4 linked regions of the Homo sapiens genome follow. The protein of the gene in region 1 interacts with the protein of each later gene in a pairwise test. Each region holds a gene or a part of one and is shown in the gene's direction. Other genes may lie near its edges. The genes, in order: TSTD2, L3MBTL3, ZNF438 and KIAA1328.

Region 1 (2,842 bases):
GCAGAAACAGAGAAATCGGGAACTTCAGTTCTGGCCGCTGCCACCGTGGCAGCCGTCTACACTTCACAGCGGGAGGGGAGGAGTCACGTTGTCTACCACTTACCTGAGACATTCTGATTTGGATGATGCTAGAGCACAGAAAATAGGTGAGCTGCATGGGATCCCAAAGCTGCTGAGGGATAGAGCCTGAGCCTGGTGGCCACAGCATATGCCCTTTCTGTTCCATGCAGCTGGGGCTGTTAGTAGTCATTGCCCTTGTCAGCAGACCTTCTACCCTGGTGGCAAACACATGAAAGCTGTGGCCCTGGGAGTGGCCTCCTAAAACAAGCCACTTAGGTCATCTGCCATCTACCCTTAACCTCTGTCTCTCGCCTGAGGGGAATCTGCAAGCTGTGCATTGGGCTTACCTCCTGCTTTTGTAGAAATAACCATCCTTTGGTATACATGGAGGATAGTTCCAGAACGCCTGAGTATACAAAAACCCAATGCATACTCAAGTCCCACAGTGGGCCCTACAGAACCCACGTATGTGATAAATCAGCCCTCCATGTACGCAGGTTTCGCCCCCTGCCAATACTGTATTTTCAACCTGTATGGTTGAAAAAAATCCATATATAAGTGCAGCCATGCAGTTCAAACCCATATTGTTCAAGGGTCAACTGTATAGTTTATTGAACAGCCACACCCATTCCTTTACACATGATCTATGGCAGAGTTGAATAGTTGCAACAGACACTATGTGGCCTGCAAAATCGGAAATTTTTACTGTCTGGCCTTTTACAGAAAAGTTTGCCAGCCCCTGATCTAGACCAGCAGCTCATCTGATAGAGGCAGAGGTGGCCTTAAAGATGTGGCCTTCTTCATTTTCTGTTGGTTTGGTTTCGTTTCTATGAGAGATTTCCTCTGATAGCTCTGCTTTCCCCAGCACTTACTCTCTGAGCTTTTAAATGTTCTCTCTGGGAGCTTCATATAAGCTCGGTGACATTTGAGCCACAGTTTTTAGATCAGCACCTGGAATACATGACACATTCTTACTGAGGTCATCCAGCACTGCCATGGTGGCTGCCCAGTCTTCTGGCCAGTGTGCCAGGCACATGTCCCTGTCACACAGGTTCCAAGAAACACATACGCAGCCATGCATAGACCAACAGATTTAATATTATATTGCAGTTTTCAGCGATGCAGAATGCAGCTGCAATTGTGTTTTAAGGAGAAGCCAAATGGGGATGGTTGTCCCTGCAACATGGTGCCACTCCTGGGCCATGTGCAGCCTCAGTGGACACTCTTCCATAGCGCTGAGGCCCTGGCCCCGCCTCCAGTTACCCTGTACTGCCCACTGCCTTACAGTTCAGTGCGCAGGCCTTCACCTTTTCATCACCAGCCTCTCTGCTCAGTGCTCTGGAGTTCTTGACCTTGTCCTTTATCATGAGATTTGCTGAAATCACTAATGAAAATAACTCCCAAAAGCAACAAACAAAAATATTAGTTTAACTGGCACTGTGGTATATTAAAAGGCACAAGGGCATTGTGGCTTAACACTTTTGCTGGATCCCAAGAGACGCACATGATGTTAAAAAGAGATCTGGCAGCAGTACTAATACTACATTTCAGTGTAATCATCTTGGGGTGGTTTGGCCAGGATTTCCCAATTCCTTGATATCTGGAGTTTCTTCACCATTGTCCGGCATCCTGCGGAGGCTTAATATACAGGCGTAAGGTCAGCAGCAATTTGTCTAATAAGTGATGAGATCAGTAGCTGAAGTCTCTAAGCTGGGCCATTACTAAATACCATAGCCATGTTGATCTGGAAATTTATCCCTCTAGTGTCTTACCTCACATAAGCCATTTGCCCACTGTGCAATATAGAAAGGTGTTTTCAAAAGTATTTGGCCGTAGATTTTCACATCCATCATAAGGTTGGCATTCAATAAGGAAAAAGTTCTAACTCCAGTATTAAATTGTACATAAATCCCAAATGTTCTTAAAGAACACTCAGGGACATGTTTGTTGCCTGGGATTGGTAATGAAAGGTTGGTTTTTGAAACTTGAAATTTCACCATTGGTTTTTTTCCTATCATTTCTGCATATCCAGCAAAAGGAATCTCATGTTGACTCCTGGCAGAGTTCAGTGGCTTCAGTCTGTCTATCTGTTCTGAGGGGAAAATTGTGTTCTGGATCCAGTAATCAATTTGGCAACTTTAATCGAGGTTTTCAAAATTCCAAGGAGGGTTAATAAAGAATGATAATCAGTTTTATTTGCTAATAGCTAAGACAAATTTGTAATAAAGTGTTTTATAATACTTCAAAAGCATGTGGAAGAGTGTGCCGTTTCTGTGTCACACATTTTAAATGCACTTGAAACACCACACAGCAAGGCCATTGAAACTGGGCTCCTGGGGCTAAGTCGCTGCTGCTGGAACATCATCTTCAGTAAGATCTGCTGGTTTGGGGGCTTCTAGTTTTTAAATAATAACCAGATTCAACTTCTGTGACTAAAGAAAAACTTCACATTAACGGTATTTTATAAAATTTTCAACTACAACCACTAGTCAACCTAAAACCTTAGTGCATAAAGAACTGAACCACAAAAGGGTTTCATGCTGCCAGCATTTTGCCTTCTGGTTTCCCCTGCAGAGCACAGGTCATCAATAGAACACATCCAGTTCAAAGGCATGGACTCCACCGCCACACACTAGACACCACTCCGGCACTTGGGAATGATGGGCCCAGTCAGGTCCGCAAGCCTCCTCTTCCTCACTGGAAAGGAATGGAGATAAGATATAAGGCACTTTTCCCTGTAGACCAGGGGCCAGCACTGTTGCTGAGAAAGCACTGTGAAACC
Region 2 (7,053 bases), on another chromosome or scaffold:
AATAACTATAAACTGTCTTCTTTGTCCTAATGCCAGATCTGTAGTAGCACAAGGTTAGTTGGAAATTAAGTAAATCCATGTTGTAGCCTACACAGGTGATTTAGCCAAAAGCCTGCCACTTTTTTTCTCATCTACTCCGATGGTTGTAACTAACACCTATATGCTGATGACTCCTAAATCTACATCTCCAGCCCCGACCTCTCCCCCGAGCTCCAGGCCCGTATTTCCACCTGCCTACTGGACATCTCCACCTGGATGTCCCACAGGTACCTCAAACTCCACATGTCTGAAATGCAATTCATTTTCTATTTCTTTCTCCCCTCCCCACAAACCTGCTCTTTCTTCCCTAACCCATATTTCAGTTGACAATAGCACCATCCACCCAGTGGACAAGCAAGAAACACAGGAGTCATCCTGAATTTGTTCTTCCCATCCCCATATCCTGTTACTTATACCTCTTGATTTTTATTTCCTAATATGTCTCAGATCTGGCCTTTTCTATCTATCATCTTTGCCATGGCCTTAATGTAGGCTCTTCTCAACTCTCATCTGAACTATTGCAGATGTCACTCTACTTCTAATTTTACCCCCTTCCAATTGGTCCTGCACCTTGAAGCCAGAGGAACTTAACGTAGATTGCTTATCTGACACTTCACTGATTTCTCATTGCCTTTTTAGCAGAACATACAAAGATCTGGGTGCCTGCACCTACCTGCTCGCCTTGTCTCCTCAGTCTCTGTTTCCTTCTTTGTATGTTGTGTTCTGGCAGTGCCAGCAGCACAGAATTACGTGTAATTTTCCCAACACATCATGTGGTTTCATGCTTTCTTGCCTTTACTCATACTGCTTTTTCTGGCTCAAATGCCATTTCTCTCTTTGTCCAGTTGGTAAATTCCTCTTTGGCCTTCAAAACCCTGTTGAGGCTTTCTATCAGAAAATCCTTCTCTGACCTTACCCCAGGCTGAATGAATCACTTCTTCTGTACTACTTCTGGACCTTGTTTATGCCTCTAGTATTGCATGTATCACATTTTATTATAAATACTGGTTTTCTTGCCTCTCTTTTCTTCTAGACTGTGAGCTCTCTTGGGCAAGGTCTCTACTGTCATTATTAATGTCTAGAATAAATTGGTGCCTAATAACTGCTGGCTGAATGAATGATTAGCCTAACAATTCAGGCAAAAGGAAATGCGAGTTTCTACACAATTTGGATAGCTATGAGTCAGGAAATGTACTACATTGAAAGCGTAATAGAAGAGATGTTGATTTAGCCAATTAAGTAAAACAAAATCATTCATCAAAAGATTATAAATGTGAAATAAAAGAAGATCCTCTGAAATTTTCTGAAAGATACAAATATAGAAGAAGTTTCTATAGATCGATATATGCGTCTTCTGAATTTAGTGACTAGTGAAATTTTCTTCATTTTACTTTGAACTCTGTAGAAAAAGCCTTGGGCAAGCTTTTATCCTTTCTGCAGAATATTTTTTCATTATTTGAATGACTTGAGTGATTTTTACAGAGCCCATACCCCCCGAAAACACTATCATTTGATCATTCATTCATTCAGCAAACACTATTCTTTATTGTGTTGCTAACAAAATTATTAGAAGAAAAAGTTTGATTGTATTTTAGAATGTCTTCTGTCATGGTTGTAATTTGCATTTCTTCTTTTCATCTTCTAGTCTTTTCAGAGAAGACTGGGATGCCTTTCAGGTTGAAGGATCCAGTGAAAGTAGAAGGGCTTCAGTTCTGTGAGAACTGTTGTCAGTATGGCAACGTAGATGAGTGTCTTTCTGGAGGAAACTATTGCAGCCAGAATTGTGCTCGGCACATCAAAGATAAGTAGGTTTTTGCCCCATTCCATCTATAAATTGAGTTTTAGATTCCAAAGTCATGGTGCCTGAGAATATAGAAGTTTTATGCTCTCGGACATTGATCACCTATTGATACCTTTTTCCCAGAGACTTTTCCTTTAGGGCCACATGGGCCCTAACCCCTATATGGGACCTGGTGACGTCTGTCATGCCTGGTCTGAGTTGTATTACTAATATTCTGCCTGCAAAACAGCCTCTGCCTCTGCCTTCAGTCTTCCATTTCCATTCATTTGATTGTCTTCAGCTAAGAGTATTTAGTTTTTTCTGGGCTATATACACATTTCGATGACACTGACATTTATAGAAACATAGTTTTGTTTATATTTTGGGAATTCTTAGGTAACTCGGTTAAAACTCCACCTACGGCATAAAGCTTCCACTGATTCGTAATCAGCTGAATGGAAATGGCCATAGGGAAGAGTGTAGTGAGTTGGGTCACTGATGATCTCAAGGTGTGGACTGAGGATTATGAGACAGAGGCATCAGCTGTAACTGGTAGTGGTGTGTGACCTTCCCATTTGGGGACAGTCTGACAAAGTTCAGCTTATCACCAAGAAGGTGTTTTTCTTGCATATCATTGTATACTACAAAGAAATGACTGGACATTTATATTTTAGTGGCATTTCCCATGTATTTTAATCAGCACAGGCTTGGGAAATGTTTTCTTTTTCTTTTTTTTTTTTTGAGATGAAGTCTTGTTCTGTCGCCAGGCTGGAGTGCAGTGGCGTGATCTTGGCTCACTGCAACCTCCACATTCCCAGGTTCAAGCAATTCACCTGCCTCAGCCTCCCGAGTAGCTGGGACTACAGGCGCACGCCACCACACCCAGCTAGTTTTTTCTATTTTAGTAGAGACGGGGTTTCACCATGTTAGCCAGGATGGTCTCAATATCCTGACCTCATGATCCGCCTGCCTCAGCCTCCCGAAATGCTGGGATTAAAGGTGTGAGCCACTGCGCCCAACTGGAACTGTCTTGTTTTTCTTGGATAACTGATGTTTCACAATGTTACACTTAGCCTTTTTTCAATTGGATTTGTCATTCTTAATAACTGCTAGATCCTTCTTTGACCCTGAAAACAAATATCTCTAAATAATCAATTCTTTTATTAGTATAGATGGTAGATGTGACAGACAAATAACTTGTTAGAACCTATTTCATACATATTGCTGGCCCCCTTTTGAAATTAATATATAAGGTAATTTTCATTTTCTGCCCTGACAGACAGATGTCATATGTAATAGTTGTTTTCAGTGTTCCTGATATATGATATTCTCATGCCTACAGATTTCTCCTGGTAGTTAAAGATTTTTCCTTTGCAGGGTGATTTTTTTTTAATGATTGTTGCATTGATAATCAACAAGTAGATGTTTGATAGGTATTGTCTCTTGTCACTATTTTGGGTTTATAAACACAACAGAGATCAGAAGGAAGAAAGGGACGTAGAAGAAGACAATGAGGAAGAAGATCCTAAGTGTAGTCGGAAGAAAAAACCAAAATTATCTCTGAAAGCTGACACCAAGGAGGATGGAGAAGAGAGAGATGATGAAATGGTGAGTGCCTCTGCCTGACACCAGGAGCACAGGGATGCATCTTTAGTGGGTAGCATCACAGTCACAAGCACTGCTCTGGAGCCCACTGAGTTCAAATGTGGGTTCCAGGACTATCTGTGTTAGTGTCAGTAAGTTACATGGCCTCTGTGTGCCTTGCTGTCCTGATCTCAAAATGGGAATCATAAACAATAGTATCCTTCTCTCAGGGTGAAAAAGTGGGATGTCCTGAAATTTAGTGCTAGGGTGAAAGGGAACATTTAAAAACCTTCAGTCTTGTAGATGAATCTTAAATTCCTCTTGACAACACAATGCCAATCTCATTTCTTTAAATTGCAGACAGATCTCATAAAACTATCTGAGTGGGCTGGGCGTGGTGGCTCATGCCTGTAATCCCAGCACTTTGGGAGGCCGAGGCCGGCAGATCACGAGGTCGGGAGATCGAGACCATCCTGGCTAACCCGGTGAAACCCCTTCCTTACTAAAAATACAAAAAATTAGGTAGGCGTGGTGGCAGGCTCCTGTAGTCCCAGCTACTCGGGAGGCTGAGGCAGGAGAATGGCGTGAACCTGGGAGGTGGAGCTTGCAATGAGCTGAGATTGCACCACTGCACTCCAGCCTGGGCGACAGAGCGAGACTGTGTCTCAAAAAAAAAAAACAAAAAAAACTATCTGAGTGGTTAAAAAATGGCACACAAATATCAGGTATATTTGGGGAAAAGCCATTCAAAATGTGTGAATTAAAACATAAATATCATATTCCTAAAGGCATCTATTAATGGTTTTATAGGAAAAGGGAACTTTGAGATCTGGAAGTGTTTCCGTTGAGATCGGTATTGTACAACTGTTACTTGGGAGTCACTGTTCTAGGAGCTGAGAATACAGGGATGCATAAGACAAATAGATGACATAGAGTCTCTCCTGGCAGAGACACTGCATTCTTGTTTAGGGGGTAGTTAATCTACAAACAAAATGAACAGGAGAAATGTCACCTAGTGATAAGTGCTACGTTGAGAATTAAAATAGGGCATTAGGATTGGCTGACTACTTTAGGTTGGGTTGTCAGGGAGCCCTCTCAAAGACGATGGCATGAACAGTGTGATCTGATGAATGAAGAGGAGTCAGCTATGTGAAGTTGAGAGTGAGGCGTCTTCTGGGTAGTAGAACTTCCAGAGGAAAGTCCTTAAGGTAAGAACTTGCACAGCATGTTTTGTTCGAGGAAATAAAAGGAAGTCTGGTCACTGGTTTAGGAGAGGGTGGAGTAAGATGAAGTTGAAGAGGTACCTGTGGTCCAGGGCATGTAGGGTTTTATGGTAAACAAGAGTCGAGGGTGTTCATTGTATTCTGAGTGTCAGGGGAAGCCTCTGGAAAGTTAAGACAAGGGAATGCTTTGATATGATGTATGTTTTAAATGACCACTGTAGCCCTGAGTGGAATCAGGGAAACCAGTTAGGAGTTTATTGCAGTAGACAACGTAAGAAGGCTGAAGATGATGGAAGTCCGTGGATTTGGGAATCAATGTTAGAGGTAGGGTTGTCAGAGTGTGTGAGGAAAAGAGAAAAATCAGGGATAAAACTTTGGCTTTAACAATTGGCTGGATAATCCTGTCTCTTACTGAGAATGGGAAGATGAGGGTGGAGTGCAGAACACAGAGTCCTTTGGCCATGATGGGTTTGAAATGCTGATTAACCATCCAGGTGAAGATCCCAAGTAGGCATTTGTCTACAGCCACATGGAGTAAGGAAGAGGAAGCTGAGGGTGTGGATTGGGAGTATCTGGCCTATGTAAGATGACCTTGAAAACCCAGGGAAAGGGACTAGAAAGAGTAGAGAAGGGAACTGGATTGGAGGAGACATCAGCAGAGGAGACAAAGAGGAGCCAGTAAGGCGTGAGGAAAATCAGAGCAGAGCGGTCACGCAGCTGAGAGCAGAAAGTGTTTCAAGGAGCGGGGAGCGGTGTCCATGCCCTTCCAACCGGTAACACGTGGATACAGTCTTATTTTGTAATAACCTCAGGCCAAAAGCAACAGTTTTCAGATGAACTATATTCTTACTTTCCTTAAAAGTTACAAAGTAAAACTGAAGAAAAGAACAACAGAAAAAGTGCTTTCTGATAGCTCTCTAACTATTCACTGGTGCCAATTTCTTGAACTTTAAAGTCATAATTTTCCTTTCTTTTTGTAGGAGAACAAACAAGATGTAAGAATCCTGAGGGGTTCGCAGAGAGCACGGAGGAAAAGACGAGGGGATTCGGCTGTACTAAAGCAGGGTGAGCTGATGAAAATAAAGTCTTACTTGTAACTTTATGAAATTGGAAATGGTTCACACAGGTGGAAATTTTAGTCATGCCACTTAAAGTATTACTTCAGGATTTTCTTTGATTCAGTTTGGTCAATAAAGATTTGAGATTTTGAGGATAAGGAAAAAAATGAAAATTCTTAACTTTCAAGTGGTTTCAGGGTAAGCATGAGAACTGTCTTCCTCCCTCCCTCTCTCCCTCCCTCTCTCCCTCCCTCTCTCCCTGCCTCTCTCCCTGCCTCTCTCCCTCTCTCCCTCCCTGTCTCCCTCTCTCCCTCCCTTTCTCCCTCCCTCCTTCTCTCCCTCTCTCCCTCCCTCTCTGTCTCCGCCTCTCCCTGTCTCCCTCCCTCCCTCCCTCCCTCTCTCTCCCTCCCTCCCTCTCTCTCCCTCCCTCCATCCCTCTCTCCCTCTCTCTTTCTCTCTCTCTCTCTCTCTGTTCCCCTCATCAAGTAGGTGTTTCCTGCCTCTGCTTCTCTATAAAACCTCTGTTCTTGTTCATTTCCCACAGTTTTAGGTTTTTAATGTTCCCTCTCAAAACATGAGCTCCTGGCGTGGAACCTGTTTTTTGCCTTCTCTTTTCATCTCTTCTGTCTTCTCTTCCCTTCCCTTCCCTTCTGTCCCCTCCCCTTCCCTTCCCTCCCCTCCCCTCCCCTCTCTTTTCGAGATGGATTCTCACTCTGTCACCCAGGCTGAAGTATGGTGGCGCAATCTCGGCTCACAGCAGCCTCCACCTCCTGGGTTCACGTGATTCCCCTGCCACAGCCTCCCAAGTAGCTGGGATTACAGGTGTGCACCACCAAGCCTGGCTAATTTTTGTATTTTTAGTAGAGATGGGGTTTCATCATATTGGCCAGGCTGGTCTCGAACTCCTGACCTCAAGCCATCTGCCCGTGTCTACCTCCCAAAGTGCTGGGATTACAGGCATGAGCCACTGTGCCTGGCCCTTTTTTTTGTTTGTTTCATTGTTCCTCAGGCAGCATTTTATTTCCAGGAGGAAACCGGCCCTGAAGCCCTTCCCTTTAGTATTTGTCTTGATGTACTTTTCTGCTTATTCTGTGTGGACCTTGGGTCACTTCCATAGAGGCCCTGGGGGATGTCCCCCACAAGGCTCTATCCCCTTGCCTGCCTCAGCTTGCAGCCTGCACAGTCAGTCATACTGTCCCGACAAACCAGGGCCATGAACCAGGTGCTTCTCCTCAGTGCCGGGGTGCATTCTAGCCTTGTTCTGTTAATTCCTCAAAAAACTGGAAATAGCCCCACCTGCCCTAGGCACACAGCTTAACTTTTGTGTCTTTTCAGAGATGACCTTCTATTTTACATCACTGAGATGAAG
Region 3 (2,787 bases), on another chromosome or scaffold:
TTGGAGCAGGTGCTGACAGCAGGGAGAAGCCAGGCAGCAGGAGCAGGTGCTTCTTGAGCCCGTGGGGGGAAAGGGGCCTTCCTGGACCCCTGAGAGTGCAGAGATGCCTGGATCTGCAGCCACAGCAGGGTAGCTACAGTGATGCCTGGGAGGGCAGGAGCGCTCCTGCCTGCTCCCAGCTTCCAAGAGCACAGGGGTGCCTGGGTCACAGCTGCAGCTTGGGCAGCTGCAGGCAGTTGTGCCTGGTAAGCTCCCACACCGTCAACTTGGAAAGGGCAGGGCTCGTGCTTGTCCCCAGCTCCCACTGGCTCCATGAAGTGTGGCACCACCCCTGGCCCAGCTCTGCCTCAGGGCCCCTCTCTACCCACTCCTGCATGCCCTAGTGTGCTGTTTTCCCCTGCCAGCAGGTGACTCAGCCTGGCCCCATCGCAGTGGCTCTCATGGCGGCAGGTTTCAGGGACTGCCCACCTCCTCTCCATGTTTTCCCAGCAGCAACAGCAGGCAAGGTGCAGGTGGTGCAGTGGCCCTGGCCAACCCTGCACAAATGAACCTGACACTCTCAGGACTAGCCCCACAAGTCCCGGCTGCACCTTCAGCTGGGTGCTCACTGGCTCCTTTCTGAATATGAAATCTTCTCCTCTTCCCCAAATGAAAACAGACGCTCTTGCCAAATGTAGTTTGGACATTGTACCTAAAAATCAAAATCTAACTCTAGGAAAAGAAGGAAGAAGTGAGGTTTCATGGTTCATTAGTGAAAGGCACAGAGGTCTTAAAGGGGACAGAAATGTCTAAGAAAAAGGAGAAACTCTAGAAAAGCAAGGAAGAAATAGGGTAGGCACCCTTTATTTTTACTGAACATGACAGAGTGAGCCAAAATTGAATAGAAGGTATTGGTGCTCAAGGTTAGGGAGAGCCACAGTGGGTAGGGTGGGACCGTTACCTTCAACAGAACCGAGGGTGTTCCCGTGCCCTTCACGCGCTCTTACGTGACTCTTCCACGTGATTGCTCCTGTCCCTGTGGTAACCAAAGACGAGTTAGCTCGCCTGGGACAGATGCGTGAAGAGGACTGTTGACTAAATGAACCCTGGTAGCTGGAGAAATGTGTGGCCACAAGCAGGAGTGACAATTAGTATTCACCACGGTCCTTGCAGAAGGTCTTCCCAGGTGCTCTCTGTTTACCCCAGCCCTTGTCTTTCTCGTCAGTGTTATGTTTTAGATCCCTGAAGGCTGACAGCTGAGAGGAAAGATTCCAATTGCATTTTTCCATGAAATCTTATCTTCATTATTATTGGCCTTTTCAGGGAAAACAAGTCCAACCTGGAAGAAGACTTCCTTCTAAACCAGGCAGACGAAGTCAAATTACAAATCAAATGTGGTCGTTGTCAGATTACTGCTCAGTCTTTTGCGGAAATAAAATTTCATTTACTTGATGTTCATGGAGAGGAAATTGAGGGCAGGCTACAAGAAGGGACCTTCCCAGGAAGCAAGGGGACTCAGGAAGAGTTGGTGCAGCACGCTAGCCCCGACTGGAAAAGGCATCCTGAGAGAGGGAAGCCGGAGAAGGTTCATTCCTCCTCCGAGGAATCACATGCATGTCCAAGACTGAAAAGGCAGCTCCACCTTCATCAGAATGGCGTGGAAATGCTCATGGAAAATGAAGGACCCCAGTCAGGAACCAACAAGCCAAGGGAAACCTGCCAGGGCCCTGAGTGTCCTGGCCTCCACACGTTTCTCTTGTGGTCCCATTCAGGCTTTAACTGCCTGCTTTGTGCAGAGATGCTGGGACGGAAAGAGGACCTCCTCCACCACTGGAAGCACCAGCATAACTGTGAGGACCCTTCCAAACTGTGGGCTATTTTAAATACGGTCTCCAACCAGGGAGTGATCGAACTTTCCAGTGAAGCTGAGAAATGAGACCCCAAGGCAGCCTGGGGTTAAGGAGAGAGCTCTGCCGCCACCTTCCTTCAGAGCTTCGTGCTTTATGGTGGTGCTTAGTCACAAAGATCAAACAACAGGATTGGTGTGAGTGAACAGAAATGATTTTTGTACATGGTTTTATTTTCTTAACGAAATAAAATATAAGCTCTCGAAGCATATTTTTCTAACTATATGCAGTCTTATTTTAAAATACGTACTGATTCTTAATATCTTAGACTTTCAGAATAAATAAAAAGATCAAAATTTGAAGATTGAAATTTAGCAGAATATAGGCTGTTCTTCAAATACAGCTCTCAGTGAAAACATGCATGTGTCCTTCCTTTTGTTCAGATGTTTTCTGCTTATATAGATTGACAAATGTCAAAAATGTCCAGGCAGCAAAACCCTTTTAATCTCAACCATAGTATCAAGTTAGATGGTAAATGCTGATATTTATTAAATTCTCTGGTTTATTTGAATATGATATAGAGCAGTATTTTAATAAGATTGTCATCTACAATAATTTAAAATCCATGTTTTCAGGACTCAGATTTTTGTTTCTTGTAATTTTGCTATTTTCTTAAATGCACATTTCATTGAAGATTAGTTGTTGGCAAGTCTTATAGCTGTAGTGTTCCATATCAAAATAATTTTTTAAAAAATTTAGTACTTCAGCTAATAAAAAGTCTACTTGCTTGGTAAAAAGTTATTTTCAAGTAGTCTTTGGGACCAGAAAATTTACAACCTGGAAAATGAACTAGATAGTTCAGTCCAGATGTGTAGGGGTCTCAACTGCTTTCCCTCACTCCCAAGTAACTTCAGAGGGTTGTCGCTAGCTGATCAATTTTAGATGGAACTGTACTTTTCAA
Region 4 (7,053 bases), on another chromosome or scaffold:
CTGTTTTCTCCCACTCTTCACAATAACTCAGTAATTTTCAATCCTATCTGAACATTAGAATCACCTATAGAACTTTTTTAAAAGGAGAGGAGAGTGAGAGAGGGAAGCAAATAATATCCAGGTCCCACCCTAGACTGATTAATTCAGTTTCGACAAGTGGGTGAGACTCAGTCCATCGCTCTTATTAAAAATTCCCCAGATTATTTAAATGTATTGCCAAGCTGTGAATCACTGCCTAAAATCAGCATCTTTTCTGAGAGCACCACTTCTATTAGAGGCCATTCTTTCTGTCACATTTGATAAACAACAGAGAGAGGAGTGCCAGCATTTTTCTTGCATATCTCTTTATTTATGTGAATCTAAATATATGTCTAGTTTTACTGCAGCAGTCCATCCTTTTCCATCCTTTGTTTTCCATCATTATCTCACTAGGACCTTGACGTCCCACTTAAAGTCACTTTCTCCCCCATAACTCCTACCATCATTCTGTGAGATCCCAATATCCATATGGTTGATGTATCCATTGCCATAGCTAAAGAATTTCTGCGTTCCTCAATTCACTCCAGCATCATCCATGGTGACACCCAGAGCTTGCTATCACCCACCATGGTTTCATCAGAAAAATCATTGACTCTGCCATCCCAGCCTCTTTCTTTACAGCTTATATTCTCATGTTTATCACATACACCATACCAAGGGTTTTTATATTTCTGGTGTTGTTGCTGTTTTATTTTCGCTTTACCTTAAAGGGATATCTAAATTATTTATTTCCCCTCATTTTTCTGCCAGTCTTTTCAGTCCCTGTTGCCTCACTTTCTTCCTGGACCGAATGGTTGACCTATACTACATTAATATATTTATTTCCCTTGACCCCCAGTCTGCTGCATTGTCCCAGTAAAAATCCTAACCCTAGATTGAGCTCTCACACTGCTTTCTCTGCTTTTTAATCTCTGCACTTGAGCCCTGCTACAAATGGATGATTTCTATTTCTGTTAGGGCCTCAACATTTCAGGAAAATCTTTTTCTTTTCATTTCTATTTCGAATTCCCTCAATACATACTCCAAACCTTCACCTCTCTTCTCAATACCTGCTTTACTCACTCACAAGAATGACTGTATCTCCTCCTACACCAAGGAAATTGAAATTGAAGCATATTCTTTCTCAACTCTGCCTCCCTCAACTCTACCACCTCTAAACTCACTTAGCCAATAGCAAAAAGCCATGGAGTTACTGATCAAATTACTTTCTTGAAATATCTTCTCAGATGTTCCATAAGCATCTCAAGCTGCAGTTAATTTTTCCCACCCTTCCCCAATCCTCCTCTGTATTGCTTATCAACCCAAAATTCTGGCAGTCATTCTTGACTTTTCTCTCCCTCTCTCTTACATCAAGTTCTACCCTTTTTAAATCCTAAATATTTCTTAAACTATGTCTTTCCGTTCCTACTACCGCTTCTCTATTGCAAACCTTCATCTCTCACCAGAGCTGTTTCAGCAGCCTTCCAACTCATCCAGTTTCTTGAAGCCCATTCTCTAAATGGTGCCAGAGTAATTTTTCATAAATTCTGGTTGGATCATATCATTTTTCTCCTGAGAGCCTTTCAGTGACTCCACCTTGGCCACAAGATAGAGTTCAAGCCCCTCAGCATGGAAAACGCAACCTTTCATGATCTGACCTGCCCTGTCTTACCTGCTTCATCTCCGTTCCTCCCTACCACACACCCAAAGTTTAATGCTGTAACAATACCTAGCTATTTAACTTTCCCAAAATATGAACTGAAGTTTCATTTGTTGGTATATTTGCTAATACTTTTTTATTTTACCTAGAACATTCTTACATTTTTCCTTATCTTTCAAGGTTAAGTTTGAGTATTTCAGGAATCTCTCTTCTGTTATGCAAATAAAGTTAGGTGCCTTGCCCTTGCACTCTCATAACATCCAGTATATTCCTGAATTACTGCATTTGGCATATGGTATTAAAAATTCTGTTTCCACGTCTGTCTCCCCCACTAAAATCTCTTTAAGAATAGGAACCAGGGCTGGGCCGGGCTCGGTGGCTCACACCTGTAATCCCAGGACTTTGGGAGGCCAAGGCGGGCAGATCACCTGAGGTCGGGAGTTCGAGACCAGCCTCACCAACATGGAGAAACCCCATCTCTACTAAAAAATACAAAGTTAGCCGGGCATGTAACAAAATTACAGGCATGGGATTGCATGCCTGTAATCCCAGCTACTCGGGAGGCTGAGGCAGGAGAACCGCTTGAACCCGGGAGGCAGAGGTTGTGGTGAGCCGAGATTGTGCCATTGCACTCCAGCCTAGGTGACAAGAGAGAAACTCCGCCTCAAAAAAAAAAAAAAAAAAAAAAAAAAGAATGGGAACGAGGGCTTTCTCATGTTTGTATACCCAGCACCTAGCATAAAATAAGTCCTCTGTAAATGTTTGTTTTCCATTTTGCCCAGCCCAGTCTCACAGTACATATCAGGCCCATAAAGTGTGTTCTTCAGTCAATATCTGATGAATATATAAGTGAATGATTGATTAGGAAATTTATTAAAAAGGAATAAGGAGAGCAGAAGTTGAGACAACTGAGATTTCTTATGAGTGACTGGGAGGATGGTGATATCATTAAGTGAGAATGGAAACAGAAGGAGGAAGTAGTTTCAAGATAAAGATACTGGATTGCTTTAGCAAGAGTTGGTTTGGGAGGCAGGAATAGACATCGCTTTACAGCTTTTCATCAGATACTTGATCAGGTCAGCAGTTTTGGCAAGCACTGTGAACTAGAAGAATCTGTTTAGAAATCGTACTTGCAGATATAGAGGTGTGGCAAGGATCACCAAGAAAGTACTAAGAGGGAAGAGGACAGGGACAGACTTTTGCAATGTCTGCATCTAAGGGGAAGGAAGAAGTCTCCTAAAACCAGAAAACCAGTCAGGATAATGTGTTATGAAGACCAAGGGAGAAAACATTTCAAGAAAAAATGTTTTCTTGAATTTCTTGAATTTCTGTAGGGTGATCTAGTAACAAGCAAGACTGTTCAAAGAAGAAAGGCCTTTTGATTTGTTCTTTAAAAACAAGTTCTAGTCGGTATGTCTGTTAGAATAAATTATTGTTTTCTAGACGTTCAGCAGACAAGGAGAGAGGAGATGGTAATGGAAGGGACATGGTGAGAGTTTTTTGTTTGTTTTTAAATTATAAAATGCATGCCTATTGGAAGAAATTAAAACATTCAGAGTTATATAAATTAAAATATAAAACTCTTCCCTCTATTTCTTCTACTCCCTTCTAGTTTGACATTTATCCATCCAGAACTTTAAAAATATTTTTGTATATTTTTATTTTTATAAAAATGAGATCACATTATATACTCTATAATTGCAAATTGCTTTTATTTTAATAGCATGTCATGAAGTTTCTTCTCATCAGTGTAAAGAATTACCTCATCCTAGCCAAGTGTGGTGGCTCACACCTGTAATCCCAGCACTTTGGGAGGCCGAGTGGGCAGATCACGAGGTCAGGAGTTCAAGACCAGCCTGGCCAACATAGTGAAACCCCATCTCTACTAAAAATACAAAAATTAGCCGGACATGGTGGTGTGTGCCTGTAGTCCCAGCACTCGGGAGGCTGAGGCAGGAGAATCACTTGACCTGGAAGGTGGAGGTTGTGGTGAGCAAAGACTGCGCCACTGCACTCCAGCCCGGGCAACAGAGTGAGACTCCTCTCCAAAAAAAAAAAAAAAAAAAAAAAGAATTACCTCATTCTTTTTAATGGCTGAATAGTGTTCTTTATAATTAATATGTACCATAATTTATTCATTCTCTTATAGAATGATATTTGCTTTCAGTTTTTCACTATTACAAATAATTCTCCAGTGATTATCCTTAAACAAATATTCTCATGCTGTTGTTCATGTAATTCTGCAGGAGAAATTCCTTTTTTTTTCTTTCTTTCTTTCTTTCTTTTTTTTTGGAAACAGAGTCTCACTGTCTCCCAGGCTGGAGTGCAGTGGCATGGTCATATCTCACTATAAGCCCAAACTCCTGGGCTCAAGCTATCCTGCTGCCTCAGCTTCCCAAGTAGCTGGAACTATAGGCACATGCCACCATGCCTGGCTAATTTAAAACAATTTTTTTTCTTTAGTGATGGGGTCTTGCTGTGATGCCCAGTCCGATCTCAAATTTCTGGCCTCAGGTGTGGGATAAAAGTAGAACTGTTGAAAGAGGGATGCATTTTCATTTTGTGTTGACAAGTCACTCACAAAAAGGTGATACCCATTTGTGGTTCCTGCAATAGGTATTAAAGTGCTCTTGTCCCCACACGCTCACTGACACTGGGTATTAATGGAGGATCTGCTCTTGTTTGTAGCCCTAGGAAAAAATCCAGTTTAGAGGAGGAGTTTGTGAGTTATAAGAAAAAGAGATGATTGACAGGCCATAGTCACAGAGGGGATGGGTCAAGATGGTATCAAGAGTGCAAATAAAAGGTAAAATTTTTTGAGACATGAAGAGAGGAATAGTAGATGGGTGAATATGGAAATAAATACAAATGAAGGAAGAAATTTTTCATATAGTCATCTTTATTTTAGGGAAATTAGAAGCCAAGTTTCCAGTTGTGATGGAGGATTACCAAGGTGGAATTTTGAATAAAGGTACAGAAAAGCTTCTGTGAAAATGCTGTAAAGAAGCAGAAGGCAGTCAGTATTGGGAGTCTGGCTGAGCTGAGAATGAATCAAATTTGGGGAAGCCAATGGTTGGGGTCACATTCATTTTTCTACAGAACAAGCAGAGATGTAGTCACTGGATTTGCCTGGGTTTGGGGCCTCTGGGTTGACGTAAATTTATATAACATTCACAATAAGGTACTTTTATTTTCCGTATTTCCCTGTTCCGTGAGTGCAATTTGTATAACCCTAAGTTATACATCTTCTGGTGGGTCTGAGAGGAAAATGGTCTCTGTGTTCTGATTTAAAAAAAAAAGAAGAGTATCACTTTTATACATTTTCTTGTGCCTACTTTATAAAGCCATATAACTAATGATTTTATTTTCTTTATATAATTCTGAACATAAAGCCATTTACTTTCTTGGTTTTTGTTAATAAATTATGATATGAGCAAACACTGCTAAAAATTCTGATCGATATAAACCAGAGACATTTATAGAAGATTATGTGATTTGAATCCTGGTCAAAGGCCACCTGGAGTAAGTGATAGACCTGGCAACACTCCATTCAGCTTGTTCTTGTCTAGAGATTCCCTTTGCTTCTGGGGAGTTTAAACGTTTTAATTTTAGAATCTTGTTTTTTGAGTAGCTGCCTCTATGCATTTCCATGTCTTTTTCTTTAATTTTCACATTGTTTATGGGCATGGGGAAGACAAAACCAAAGTGTCATGAGTTTGTTGTGAACAAACACGAAGAGGGAAGAGTGGAATAGTGAGAGATAACACATCATTAGAATATTTTTCCCTAAAATAAGAAAATATTATAAGAGGAAATATGCTAATGGTGGGAACACGGTTTATTAGAGAAGAAAATATGTACATGTGTTCATTTTCATTAAAATGCCTTTTATTCTATATTTGTCTTGTTGACCTTTTAATGAAACTATGTAAGTATGGAGTCTAGTTCTTCTACGTGCACTGTTACACTACTCCTTACGTACTCTGGGTACATAATAAATACTAATAACAATTGAAAATTAGAAACACAAACGCGTTTGTGTGAGGCACATTGGTGATATTTTAATCCCTAGTGTTCATTTTTAGTACTTGGAAAACATCTTAGATATGCAAGTCCTGTTTTAGCATACTTTTTATTTCTATAGATAGCCTGGTTCTTAGTCATATTCTGTGACTTTATTAGCTGTTTCATCAGTTTGAATCTTATTTCCCCAACTCCCAGTGTAAGCTTTTTGAGAATAAAGGCCATTTCTTTTCCAAAATTGTTGTGACAGGACACAAAATAGACGTTGAGTAAATTATTTAAATTATACCTCAATAAAAGGTAAGATAAAGAGAGTTCTTAATGAATTGCATTTCAACCCATACTGAATTTAAATATCTATGTGCTCTGTGTTCCCTTCTGTGCCTTCAACAGTTCATTCATCGTTGTTCTTTCAGTTTATTGAAGTCAAACTGTGATGGCTGGCTGCTTGGAACATCATCATCTATTAAAAAGCACCAAGACCCCCCAAACAGTGGAGAGAATAGGAAGGAGAGGAAGACAGTTGGGTTTCATTCGCATATGAAAGATGATGCCCAGTGGTCATGTCAAAAGAAAGATACATGTAGACCCCAAAGAGGTAAGTTTAACAACTGTAGTGGCAAAATGAGAAACTGGTAGGGGAAGGTAGTTGCTAGCCAATGAATTTCAGATGATTTCCTACAATGCTGAGCAAAAGTTAAATGTTTACACACTGAAGTGTGCCTGCAAGGCCACAGGTAACACATTTACTAGATTAGTGAATTGTGTCTGTGTTTTTCTTAGAATACTGGAATGAAAAACTGTATCCAACTTGTCCCTCTTTTTGCAAGCAATAACTGTTAAGAATTAGTCAGCAGTAAGTATGGTCATAGACTAAAATAATGTTCCAAGTGAGTAAAGAGGGCAAGATATTGAACATAAATCTCTCCTGGAAAAATAAACCCTAACAACTACAGTTAATCCTCAATTGACTGGAAACATGGGGAGGGTGGAGGAGAGGTCATGGACAATTCCCCATATTGTGACTAAAGCAAAACCTCACAAGTCTAAAGCATTTTTTGCCTAACAGTCTTTTAAGTGTCAATAATACTTCCTGTTATATGTGGTAGACTTTAAAGAAATCAATTATAAGTAACTATGTTAAATGTTGAGTGAAGCAAATTTATTTGTTTCCCAGTTGTTCCTGGAGAGGCTTTTGGCTTAATCTTTCCTGGCATCCTTAAAGGAACGACTTTGGAAAAGAATGGAGCAAGTCTGAGCTTTATTGTACAGAAAAGATGTACAGGAAACAAAAGACCAAAAAGACCTCTGAGCCCTCTCCTGCTCACACCTCTTTCCTAGTGTCTTTTTTC

The links.
Region 2: the proteins of TSTD2 (region 1) and L3MBTL3 interact in binary tests that used the Homo sapiens proteins (3 or more experiments, as listed by UniProt).
Region 3: the proteins of TSTD2 (region 1) and ZNF438 interact in binary tests that used the Homo sapiens proteins (3 or more experiments, as listed by UniProt).
Region 4: the proteins of TSTD2 (region 1) and KIAA1328 interact in binary tests that used the Homo sapiens proteins (3 or more experiments, as listed by UniProt).

What each region holds. Positions count from the first base shown.
Region 1 is NC_000009.12:97,599,549-97,602,390, reverse strand, and holds the end of TSTD2 (thiosulfate sulfurtransferase/rhodanese-like domain-containing protein 2), read left to right. Parts: 3' UTR 1-2,311; downstream 2,312-2,842. Other genes in the region: TMOD1 (tropomodulin-1), read right to left, coding at 2,693-2,757.
Region 2 is NC_000006.12:130,049,565-130,056,617, forward strand, and holds part of L3MBTL3 (lethal(3)malignant brain tumor-like protein 3), read left to right. Parts: intron 1-86; coding exon of another isoform or gene 87-191; coding exon 192-266; intron 267-1,684; coding exon 1,685-1,844; intron 1,845-3,294; coding exon 3,295-3,427; intron 3,428-5,606; coding exon 5,607-5,691; intron 5,692-7,053. UniProt on the Homo sapiens protein: Is a negative regulator of Notch target genes expression, required for RBPJ-mediated transcriptional repression. It recruits KDM1A to Notch-responsive elements and promotes KDM1A-mediated H3K4me demethylation.
Region 3 is NC_000010.11:30,844,089-30,846,875, reverse strand, and holds the end of ZNF438 (zinc finger protein 438), read left to right. Parts: intron 1-1,302; coding exon 1,303-1,915; 3' UTR 1,916-2,244; downstream 2,245-2,787. UniProt on the Homo sapiens protein: Isoform 1 acts as a transcriptional repressor.
Region 4 is NC_000018.10:37,154,083-37,161,135, forward strand, and holds part of KIAA1328 (protein hinderin), read left to right. Parts: intron 1-6,094; coding exon of another isoform or gene 6,095-6,117; coding exon 6,118-6,299; intron 6,300-7,053. UniProt on the Homo sapiens protein: Competes with SMC1 for binding to SMC3. May affect the availability of SMC3 to engage in the formation of multimeric protein complexes.